Linked DNA regions of Homo sapiens: regions 2, 3 and 4 are each linked to region 1. The links come from fine-mapping of genetic effects on gene expression. A gene starts in region 1. Each other region holds a variant in brackets. All regions are shown on one strand. Distances are from middle to middle.

Evidence for each region. PIP is the estimated chance that this variant, and not a neighbour inherited with it, causes the effect.
Region 2: its variant is fine-mapped to the expression of FXYD5 in whole blood (TOPMed, PIP 0.94).
Region 3: its variant is fine-mapped to the expression of FXYD5 in monocytes (Quach 2016, PIP 0.92).
Region 4: its variant is fine-mapped to the expression of FXYD5 in monocytes (Fairfax 2014, PIP 0.95).

What each region holds. Positions count from the first base shown.
Region 1 is chr19:35,153,163-35,155,847 of GRCh38, forward strand. It overlaps FXYD5 (FXYD domain containing ion transport regulator 5), which reads left to right and starts at 1,573. Exons shown (of 9, transcript NM_014164.6): 1 at 1,573-1,647; 2 at 2,389-2,449. The coding sequence starts at 2,389. It overlaps FXYD7 (FXYD domain containing ion transport regulator 7), which reads left to right. Exons shown (of 6, transcript NM_022006.2): 6 at 732-1,140. The coding sequence ends at 754. RefSeq lists enhancers at 541-1,405, 2,344-2,513.
Region 2 is chr19:35,177,981-35,180,665 of GRCh38, forward strand. No RefSeq gene overlaps it. Among named protein-coding and RNA genes, the nearest start is that of FXYD5, 25 kb to the left of the region's middle. The variant C/T (reference allele first, on the strand shown) is at 1,204.
Region 3 is chr19:35,174,427-35,177,111 of GRCh38, forward strand. No RefSeq gene overlaps it. Among named protein-coding and RNA genes, the nearest start is that of FXYD5, 21 kb to the left of the region's middle. RefSeq lists a silencer at 1,425-1,581. The variant GA/G (reference allele first, on the strand shown) is at 1,350.
Region 4 is chr19:35,182,299-35,184,983 of GRCh38, forward strand. No RefSeq gene overlaps it. Among named protein-coding and RNA genes, the nearest start is that of FXYD5, 29 kb to the left of the region's middle. The variant G/C (reference allele first, on the strand shown) is at 1,289.

The DNA of each region.
Region 1 (2,685 bases):
GATTCTCCTGCCTCAGCCTCCCAAATAGCTGGGACTACAGGCACACACCACCACACCCGGCTAATTTTTATATCTTTAGCAGAGATGGTGGTTCACCATTTTGGCCAGGCTGGTCTCAAACTCCTGACCTCAAACGATCCGCCATCCTCGGCCTCCCAAAGTGCTTGGATTACAGGCGTGAGCCACAGCGCTTGGCCTGTTTCATGTTTATTTAATGAGTTTTAAAACATGAACAAGGCACTTATGGATGCGTGGGGCAGCATGGGGGTTGGCCTTGTCACCTGGGGCACAGCTGAAGACTTTGCACAGGTTTCTGGTCTATCCTAGGTGAATGATGGTCTGCAGCGGGTGGGGAATGGGGGACTTCCCGTTGTATCCAAATGTTCAGGACAGGGAGTGTAGGAAAGGAGTGAGGGTGTAGGAGGAGATTGCAAATGGGAAGGGAGATGGGGACTCCCTTTCTGGCAGGCGGATAGCCCCAAAAGCCCAGGTTGGGTCTGGGGTCGCCAGCCCCGTAGCAGGTGTTTCTCTCCATGACAGCAGCCAGGAGGTGTCCCCAAGGGAACAAGACATTAGAGTGTGGGAGGCAAGACAGCTCCTCAGTGTTAGCTCTGGGGTGACAGTCCCTGGGGTCTGGCTTCCATGGTGCCGGGGAATGGAGAGCCAACGAGCTGTGGGGAGGGAGGCAGTTTCCACCTTTCTAGTGGCTCACGCACCCCCTCTCTCCCCAGCCCCTGGTGGCGGCGGCGTGTAACACCTTCCCGAGGAAACTCCGCTGCCGACCCTGCCTGAGCGCGGGAGCCTGAGGACCGGGTGGAGGCGGTGGGGACCCAGCCGCGCGCCGGGAGCGCTCCCCGGAATGAGCCGCCCCACCCACCCCAAGGCTGGAGCCGCTGCACCCTGCTGTCCCTCTCCAGGCCTTGGCAATGACGATCCCCCAAAGAGCCCGTCTGCACCCCAGACCCAGGGCCTCAGGCCTCCAGCTCCTGGGATCCGGGAGTCCATCCCGGCCCAGCACCCCCAGCATCCCCGTGTATGGCCCCCCTGCACCTCCTTGTCTCATCCCCGAAGATCCGTCCCCCTGGCCCCTCAGTGTCCATGTCTTGAGCTTAATAAATGTGCATTTGGTTTTTTCCTCTGTTCTGTCTGTGTGTTCTCATCTGTGGGGCACGGTGTGGGTAGGGGTGCAGAACTGAACCTGGGGTAGCTCTCCCCTGCGTGCCCGGAGTCGCCCCCTCTTCATTCTCCTCCCCCAGTGCCCCGAGATGCCCCCCTTCAATCCCTTCTCCTTCCTCAACACCTCCGGATTTGTCCTTTCCCTTCCTCCAGCGACCCCAGAATAGAGCCCTCCCGTTTCTCCCCCTGCTCTCTCAGAGGCGTCCACTCACCCTAGACCTGCCTGCCCCATCCCCGTTCCCACCCTCTCCCACCACTATGCCCTCACCCCTGCCCCCCGTCGCCCTCAGCGATTCCCCCTCCTGCTCCCACCCCGGGCTCTGAAGCCAGGAAACCCAAGAGGAAATGACTGAGCCCGTCTGGGTCCCCGCCCGCTCGCGCTCCCCTGGCCACACCCTCCGCCTGGACGCAGCAGCCACCGCCGCGTCCCTCTCTCCACGAGGCTGCCGGCTTAGGACCCCCAGCTCCGACGTAAGTCCCTCTCGTGCGCCACCTCCATCCGCTGCCCCTCTGCCCACGGGCCGGGCTCAGGTGGGTAGGGGTTTGACCCCTTCCGCTCCTCTCCGCCCCCCATCCACGCCCACATCTCTCTGCCTCCTCTCCTGGGCTACAGTGGGCCGCTCTGCCTCGCTCCCGCCCGCCTGCCTCAGTCTCCCCAGCTCTCTGCCACCCCCCTCGGACCAGTGCCTCTTAGGTCTCTCCAGCGCGCCATCCCTGCAAGGCGGCCCCTGACACCAACTCACTTTTTCCTCTGAGCGCGGGAGGCGTTACTCACTCTTCCTCCTTCCCCTCCTCGCCGACTCCCGGGCTCTGGGCCCCTGGGGGAGGGAAGAGGCCTCCTATCTACTCCTCTGCCCCAGTCCCCTCCTTGCGTCAGTCCCAGTGAGGGATAAGCGCCTGGCGGAAGGCGCAGGGAGGTGTTTCTCTGCTTCAGGAGTGCCCGCCGGCCCTTGCAGCTGCTGGAAGACCCATTTATCTCATGCTTCTTGTTTTCTTTGGGGACCTGCAGGGGAAGGAAGCAGGGTGACGGTTTGGTATCCCCACCTAAGACCCTCCCCTTTCCCCTGAGGCCAGCCGTCAGCCCCTGGCAGGGGGTCTTGGAAGCCAGAGGTTTTTGCTCAGGGCAGGGAAAGGGCTGCAGGATCCCCGGGGGCTGCCGGAGGTCGGTCTCACTGACATCATGGCTGACCCCAGCATCGCCTGGTCCCACAGATGTCGCCCTCTGGTCGCCTGTGTCTTCTCACCATCGTTGGCCTGATTCTCCCCACCAGAGGTAAGACCCATCTCTGGCCTCCACCCTGCCCCAGAGCCCCCAGCCAGGCCAGCCCCACGTGTGCTGCGGGGTGGGTGGTTGGCCCGTGTGAACGTTGTCCTGCCCTGTCACCCTCCCGCTGAGCCGGCACCAGGAAGTGGGGATCCCTATGGCGGGGCGACGTTACACCCTCTTTGGACACCTCAGACCCGGGTGGCTGCTTCCAGTGAGTCTGGCCAGGGCCTGTCCTGCTGAGC
Region 2 (2,685 bases), 25 kb after region 1:
GATCCCTAATATCATAAGGGACCAGACTTGCTGCTCTGCCACCCTAAGCATGTGGCCTGAAGCCTCAAGATCACAAAATAGCTGCAGAAGCCTCAGCCATCATGCCACATTCCAGGAAAAAAATCAAGAAGGGGAAAAAAAAGTGAGAAAGGAAAGGCACCACTAGGTGATTCAGCTCCTTTTAAAGGGACTTCCCAAGACTCCCTCCCAAAGATTTCTACTTCCTTCGGATTGCTACCTCTAATTGCAAAGGACACAGAAATGTGGTCTTTTAGCTGAGTCCGTGACACCCCAAATACCATCAAGGAAAATAATTGCCCTCAGGAATTTGTTGATTAGGATGCTGAGAAGGATGGGGAGCTGCCACCAAGTCAGGAGATGGAGCCTCAAGTCATTTTTACTCCAATGTAAAAGGAAAAGATAACTGTTAAGACTGGGGGTTGGCCAGGCACAGTGGCTCACACCTGTAATCTCAACACTTTGGGAGGCCAAGGCAGGTGGATCACCTGAGGTCAGGAGTTCGAAACCAGCCTGGCCAACAGGGTGAAATCCCATCTCTACTAAAAATACAAAAATTAGCCAGGCATGTGACACATGCCTGTAATCCCAGCTACTCGGGAGGCTGAGGCAAGAGAATCACTTGAACCTAGGAGGCGGAGGTTGCAGTGAGCCAAGATTGCACCATTGCACTCCAGCCTGGGTGACAAGAGTGAGACGTCATCTCAAAAAAAAAAAAAAAACTGGTCGTTTTTGAAACTTCCAGAGGACAGCAGCACTGATTCTCAGACTTGATAGAGACTTCCAGACATCACTTCAACAGCGCCTCCAATGCTCTCCAATGCTACCCAATCCCTTTCTGGCAAAAGACATCTTTTTCTGTGGCATCATGGTCTGAAGTGAAGCCTCCTCCTCCTCCACCCTTACATCAGGGGAGATATCTTGCCAGGAGCTAATGGAGTGGATGTTGTAATTCAGCTAGCCTCCTGAGTACAATTCTGTCAAGGTTCTTGTTTTGAAATTGAGGCCAGATCACATTAACTGGAAGGAATCTGCCTTTTCTCATCTGACACTAGATTGTGCTTTTCTTGGAGGTGTTGAGGATGACCTCCAATGATTGCTTCGGTAAAGTCTGTTGGCTTCTCAAGAAGTTATTGAGTCAAGGACTCCAGCTGCTGATGGTGGGAGGTTAAACAGGGTTTGAAA[C/T]ATCGCCTGAGGTGGCTTTGTAATGTATCACCTTGGCCAGGTTAAACTACACTTCCCAGAATCTTTTTCCCTAGATGCCTGTGTTTTCTGGTTAGGGTGAACCACAAGAGACATTCTTGTCAGGGATCTGCTGGGTAGAGGTGAAGCCACGGACATTTCGCAGCTTATACCAGTTGTCACTTATCAGACAGCTCATCTCATTGGCATAAGGCAGCAACCAGGGCTGCAACTGTTTCACCTTCCGCTGGATCCTCCTTCAGCTTCCCCAGTTGTTGGGCCAGACATGTGTGCTCAGCCCCGTGATGAAGGACCATGACTCTAGCAAGACACCCACAGCACCAAGGTCATAGACAACAAGAATTAGCATGGGGCTGGGTGCAGTGGCTCATGCCTGTAATTCCAGCACTCTGGGAGGCCGAGGCGGGTGGATCACTTGAGGTCAGGAGTTCGAGACCAGCCTGGTCAACATGGTGAAACTCCATCTTTACTAAAAATACAAAAATTACCCAGGCGTGATGTTGCATGCCTGCAATCCCAGCTACTCGGGAGGCTGAGGCAAGAGAATCTCTTCAACCTGGGAAGCAGAGGTTGCAGTGAGCAGAGATCACACCACTGCACTCCAGCCTGGTCGACCGAGTGAAACTCTGTCTCAAAAAGAAAAACAAAAAGAAAGAAAGAAAGAAAAAAAAGAAGAGAAAAGAAAAAGAAAAAGAATTAACATAGGATTCAGTCCATCCTTGTGGACTCCAGCTTGTGCTTGTGGGTTCTAACTTGTTCCGTGCTCTCCCCAATCTTACCTCAATCTTCCCTTCCTGACTTCCTGCACCTGTGGGTTTCAAGTTCCAGCATCAAGACAACAGCCCTACAAAGAGAGCTTCACTAGCAACTACAATTGTTGAAGGTCAAATTCGTGTAGCAAACTGTGTGTGTGTACGCCCACATATGTATTAAAGGTTCAGCTTTGCTGATACAGAATTTGGTACTAAGAGTGGTTCCAGAAGGCCAGAATCTTAACAATGAGATCTGGTTTTTCTTTCTCTTTTTTTTTTTTTTTTGAGATGGAGTCTCACTCTGTCACCCAGGCTGGAGTGTGGTGGCGTGATCTTGGTTTACTGCAAGTTCCGCCTCCCGGGTTCACGCCATTCTCCTGCCTCAGCCTCCCCAGCAGCTGGGACTACAGGCGCCTGCCACAACGCCCAGCTAATTTTATTGTACTTTTAGTAGAGACGGGGTTTCACCGTATTAGCCAAGATGGTCTCAATCTCTTGACCTTGTGATCCACCTGCCTCGGCCTTCCAAAGTGCTGGGATTACAGGCGTGAGCCACCGCGCCCGGCCGAGATCTGGTTTTTCTAGAATTGGTTCTCTAATTAAATTGAAAGCCATTAATGACCTTGTTTTCAGTAATGAAGGGTACACTGATAGGTCATAGCATGGAGTGGCAAGGCAGTCACTCAGACCATCACCAGTAGCTTCCTATATT
Region 3 (2,685 bases), 21 kb after region 1:
GGAAGGAAGGGAAAGGGAAATCTAAATGGCCAATAAGCACATGAAAAGATGTTCAATATCAACAGTCATCAGTAAAAATAAATGAAAATCACAATGAGATACCACCACACACCCACTAGGATGGCTAAAATTAAAAAGACAGACACTTCCAAGTGGGAAGAGGATGTGGAACAAGTGGAATTTCCATTCGTAGCTGGACCAGAAAGGGATACAATCACTTTAGAAAACTGGCAGTTTCTAGGCTGGCCACGGTGGCTCACACCTGTAATCCCAGCACTTTGGGAGGCTGAAGACCATCTGAGGTCAGGAGTTCGAGACCAGCCTGGCCAACATGGTGAAGCCCCGTCTCTACTAAAAATACAAAAATTAGCTGGATGTGGTGGTGGGTGCTTGTAATCCCAGCTACCCGGGGGGCTGAGGCAGGAAAATCACTTGAACCCAGGAGACAGAGGTTGCAGTGAGCCGAGATCAGACCACTGTACTCCAGCCTAGGCAACAGAACGAGACTCGGTCTCAAAAAAAAAAAAAAGAAAAGAAAAGAAAATTGGCAGTTTCTTAAAAAGGTAAATGTGCACTTAACCTATGACCCAGCTATTCAACTCTTAAGTATTTATCCAAGAGAAGTCAAACCACATGTCCACACAAAGACCCACACACAAATGTTTACAGCAATATCTGTAATAGTAAAAAGACTAGAAACAACCCCAATGTCCATCAGCACAAGTGAGTGGACTACAAACTGTGGAAGGAAGAAAGACTGAGCTACACAACACATGAATGAATCTCAAAAGCATTGTCTTGAGTGAAAGAAACCACACACGAAAGAGCACAGACTGTGTAATTCCATTTATATGAAGTTCTGAAATATGCAAAACTGATTAACAGTGATAAAAATCAGAAGAGTAGTGGCCTCTACTATGTCAGCAGGAGGTGGGGAGAGACTGCAAAGGGGCATGAAAGAACTTTCTGGAAGGATTGAAATGTTCTGTGCCCTGATGACAGTGGTGCAGATTACATGTCCATATATTGATCAGAATGATCAAATTGTACGTTTAAGTTTTGAGGGCTCGGTGCCGTGGCTCATGCCTGTAATCACAACACTTTGAGAGGCCAAGGCAGGTGGATCACTTGAGGTTGGAGTTCGAGACCAGCCTGGCCAACATGGTGAAACCCCGTCTCTACTAAAAATACAAAAATTAGCCAGGCATGGTGGTGCATGCCTGTAATCCCAGCTCCTCAGAAGGCTGAAGCAGGAGAGTCGCCTGAACGTGGGAGGCGGAGGTTGCAGTGAGCCGAGATCGCGCCACTGGACTCCAGCCTGGGTGATGGAGCAAGACCCTGTCTCAAAG[GA/G]AAAAAAAAAAAAAGATTTGTACACTTTACTATGTGTAAGTGATATTTGGATGTGTGACCCCTCCAAATCTCATGTTGAAATGTGATCCCCGATGATGGAGGGGGGCCTGGTGGGAGGTGATTGGGTCATGGGGGTTGATCCCTCATGAATGGCTTGGTGTCCTCCCCATGGTCATGCGTGAGTTCTTGCCCTCTTAGCTCACGTGACAGCTGGTTGCTTAAAGAGCCTGGCACCTCCCCCTCTCTCTGTCTTACTCCTGCTCTTGCCATGGGACACGCCTGCTATCCCTTCACTTCCTGCTATGAGTAAAAGATTCCTGAGGTCTCTTCACCAAAAGCCAAGCAGATGCTGGTGCTGTGCTTGTACAGCCTGAAGAACCATGAGCCAAAGAATTCTCTTTTCCTTATAAATTACTGTCTCAAGTATTCTTTTATGGCAATGCAAAATGAACTAACACAGTAAATTATAACTCAATACAAAACAAGAACATTGAAAACAAATAGGCAGTTCTGTCCTGGGTGGTGATGATTTTCTGATCCCTGGATCTCAGACAGAGCAGCCAGATGCTGAAGCTGACGTGTACAATGGGGGCTCCTGATTAGGGTGGAGGGAGAAGCTCCTTGGGCAAGTCAGTCTGCTCATGTTGTGGAATCATTTGCAGTCTTCACTTAGAGCGCACTCCACCAGCCTTTCCAAAGAGCTTGTCAACCTCTAATTCCTTATGCCAAGCCAGACCAATTTTGCTTAAAATTGACAGTCACAAATAATCTCAAAATCTCGTGGCTTACAACAAAGGTTTGTTTCTCGCTCTCACTACATGTCCCTCACGGTTCAGCTAGGAGCTAGGATGGGACCCAAGATGATGGGGAAGCCTGGGCTGGGCGCAGTGGCTCACACCTGTAATCCCAGCACTTTGGGAGGCCGAGGCAGGCAGATCGCTTGATCTCAGGAGTTTGAGACCAACCTGGCCAATATGGTGAAACCTTGTCTCTACAAAAAATACAAAAATTAGGCCAAGTGCAGTGGCTTACACCTGTAATCCCAGCACTTTGGGAGGCCGAGGCAGGCGGATTACCTGAGGTCAGGAGTTTGAGACCAGCCTGGCCAACATGTCAAAACCCCATCTCTACTAAAAATAGAAAGATTAGCCAGGCATGGCGGTGCATGCCTGTAATCCCAGCTACTCAGGAGGCTGAGGCAGGAGAATCACTTGAACCTGAGAGGCGGAGGTTGCAGTGAGCCGAGATCAAGCCACTGCACTCCAGCCTGGGTGACAGAGTGACAGAGTGACACTCCGTCTCAAAAACTAAATAAAAATAAGCTGGGCATGGTGG
Region 4 (2,685 bases), 29 kb after region 1:
TGCAGGTAAAAGGTAAGTGGGGGGTGCCCTGCAGTCCTTGCAGCAATCCTAGCTATAAGAGGGCCTCACGGTCCTCACAGGCCTGAAGCCCAGTCTAGGGAGCTGCCTAGAATCCACATGGCTACACTGCCCCAGAGAAAGGACTCACACTGAGGCCCCACTCCCAAAGACCCAGGCTGCTACCACACAGGGCTATTTTGAGAACAGAGCCCACTGCTAGAGGGCATTCTGCCTTGGATGCCAATAGCTCCTGCATCTCCACATCCCTGGGGTCCTTCTGTTATTCCACCATGTCTACACAAAAGGGTGCAATGCCACAACACCAGTTAGATCCAGAAGTACAGCTATGACCCCAGCATTTGAACTCATACAGTGCCCCACACCCCAGGGAACAGGCAATCTATCACAGCAGGGTGGCAGCCCCCAAAACATGGGGAACCAATGTGCAAATCCCTCAGGGACCAAGGACTTGCCTGCCTGGTGCCCAACAGTGATGGCAATGCTGCCTCACAACTAGCAGAGCCACCATGCCCAGTGCACACTTCCCTAGGGTTCACCCAGCTCCTTCCTCCAGCAAAGCCACACCACTGCCTCCTTAAACACCTGAATATTAGGCCACTGAAGTATTCACAGACACTGCTGACATTAATTACAGCCAAAGAAATCACATGGAGATCATACTACTGTGTTTATCTAGAACCACAGCCAAAGCATCCTACACAACCGACACTATAGGGTACATATACAGGAAAAAGTCTTTACTTATGAAAGTTACTCCATCAAATTGGAAGAGGTAGCTATTATACCAGATGTGTAGGAACACAAGAAACATGAAAAAGCAAGAAAACATGACACCTCTAAAGGAACACAATAATCCTCCAATAATAGACCCCAAAGAAAAGAACATCTGTGCAATTCCCAAAAAAGAATTCAAGTGATCATAAGGAAATTTGATGGGATACAAGAGAATACAAATAGACAATTCAACAAAATCAGGAAAACAGGGCTGGGCGCGGTGGCTCACGCCTGTAATCCCAGCACTTCGGGAGGCCGAGGTGGGTGGATCACCTGAAGTCAGGAATTTGAGAGCATCCTGGCCAACATGGCAAAACCATGTCTCTACTAAAAATACAAAAACTAGCCAGGCATGATGGTGCATGCCTATAGTCCCAGCTACTTGGGAGGCTGAGGCAGAAGAATCGTTTGAACCCTGGAGGCGGAGGTTGCAGTGAGCCAAGGTCGTGCCACCGTACTCCAGCCTGGGCAACAGAGTGAGACAACATCCCCC[G/C]CCCAAAAAAATCAGGAAAACAGTTCATGATCAGAATGAAAAAAAATCAGTAAAGAGATGGATATCATAAAAAAAAACACATAAATTTTGGAGCTGAAGACTTAATAAATGATTTTTTTTTTTTTTTTTTTGAAACAGAGTCTTGCTCTTGTCACCCAGGCTGGAGTGCAATGGCATGATCTTGGCTCACTGCAACCTCTGCCTCCCAGGTTCAAGCAATTCTTCTGCCCCAACCTACTGAGTAGCTGGGATTACAGGCCCCTGCCACCATGCCCAGCTAATTTTTGTATTTTTAGTAGAGACGGGGTTTCGCCATGTTGGCCAGGCTGGTCTCGAACTCCTGACCTGGTGATCTGCCCACCTCAGCCTCCCAAAGTGCTAGAATTACAGGCGTGAGCCACCGATCCCGGCCAATAAATGAAATTTAAAATATAATTGAGAGCTTCAACAACAAACTAGGTCAAGCAGAAGAAAGAATTTCTAAACTTGAAGACAGGTCTCTTTTGAAATAACTCAATCAGACAAAAAATAAAATAAAAAAGAATGAAGGAAGCCTACAAGACCTATGGGACATTGTTAAGCAAACAGATATTCCAATTTCCAAAAGGAAAAGAGATGAGAAAAGACACAGAAATCCTATGTAATAAAGTAATAGCTGAGAACTTCCAAAGTCTCGGGAAAGGTATGGACATCCAGATTCAGGATGCTCAAAAGTCCCCAAATAGATTCAACCCAAAAAGGTCCTCTCTGTAGCACATTCTGGTCAAACTGTCAAAAGTTGAAGACCATGAGGGAATTTGAAAAACAGCAAGAGAAAAGCATCAAGTCACATATAAGGGAATCCCCATTAGACTAATAGAAGACTTCTCAGCAGAAACCTTATATTACAGGAGCGAATGGGATGATATATTCTAAGTGATGAAAGAAAAAAACCTGGCAGCCAAGAATACTGTAACAGCAAATCTATCCTTTAGAAATGAAGGAGTCATAAAGTCTTTCCCAGACAAGCAAAAACTGAGGGAATTTATTACCACTAAAGTAGCCTTACAAGAAATCCTCAAGGAGTAGTAAATCAGCAAATTATCTGAATAGGCATTTCTCAAAAGAAGACATACAAATGACCAACAAGTATATATGAAAAATATTCAACATCATTAATCATCTGGCAAATGCAAATTGATACTACAATAAGATATCATCTCACTCCACTTAGAATGGCTGTTATCAAAGAGAAAAAATAACAAAAGCTGGCAAGGATGCAGAGGAAAAGGAACTCTTATACACTGTTGGTGGAAATGTAAATTAGTACAATCATACTGGAAAACAGTATGGAGGCTCCTTAAAAACACCTAAAAATAGAACTATCCTATCTATGATCCAGCAATACACTCTAGGGT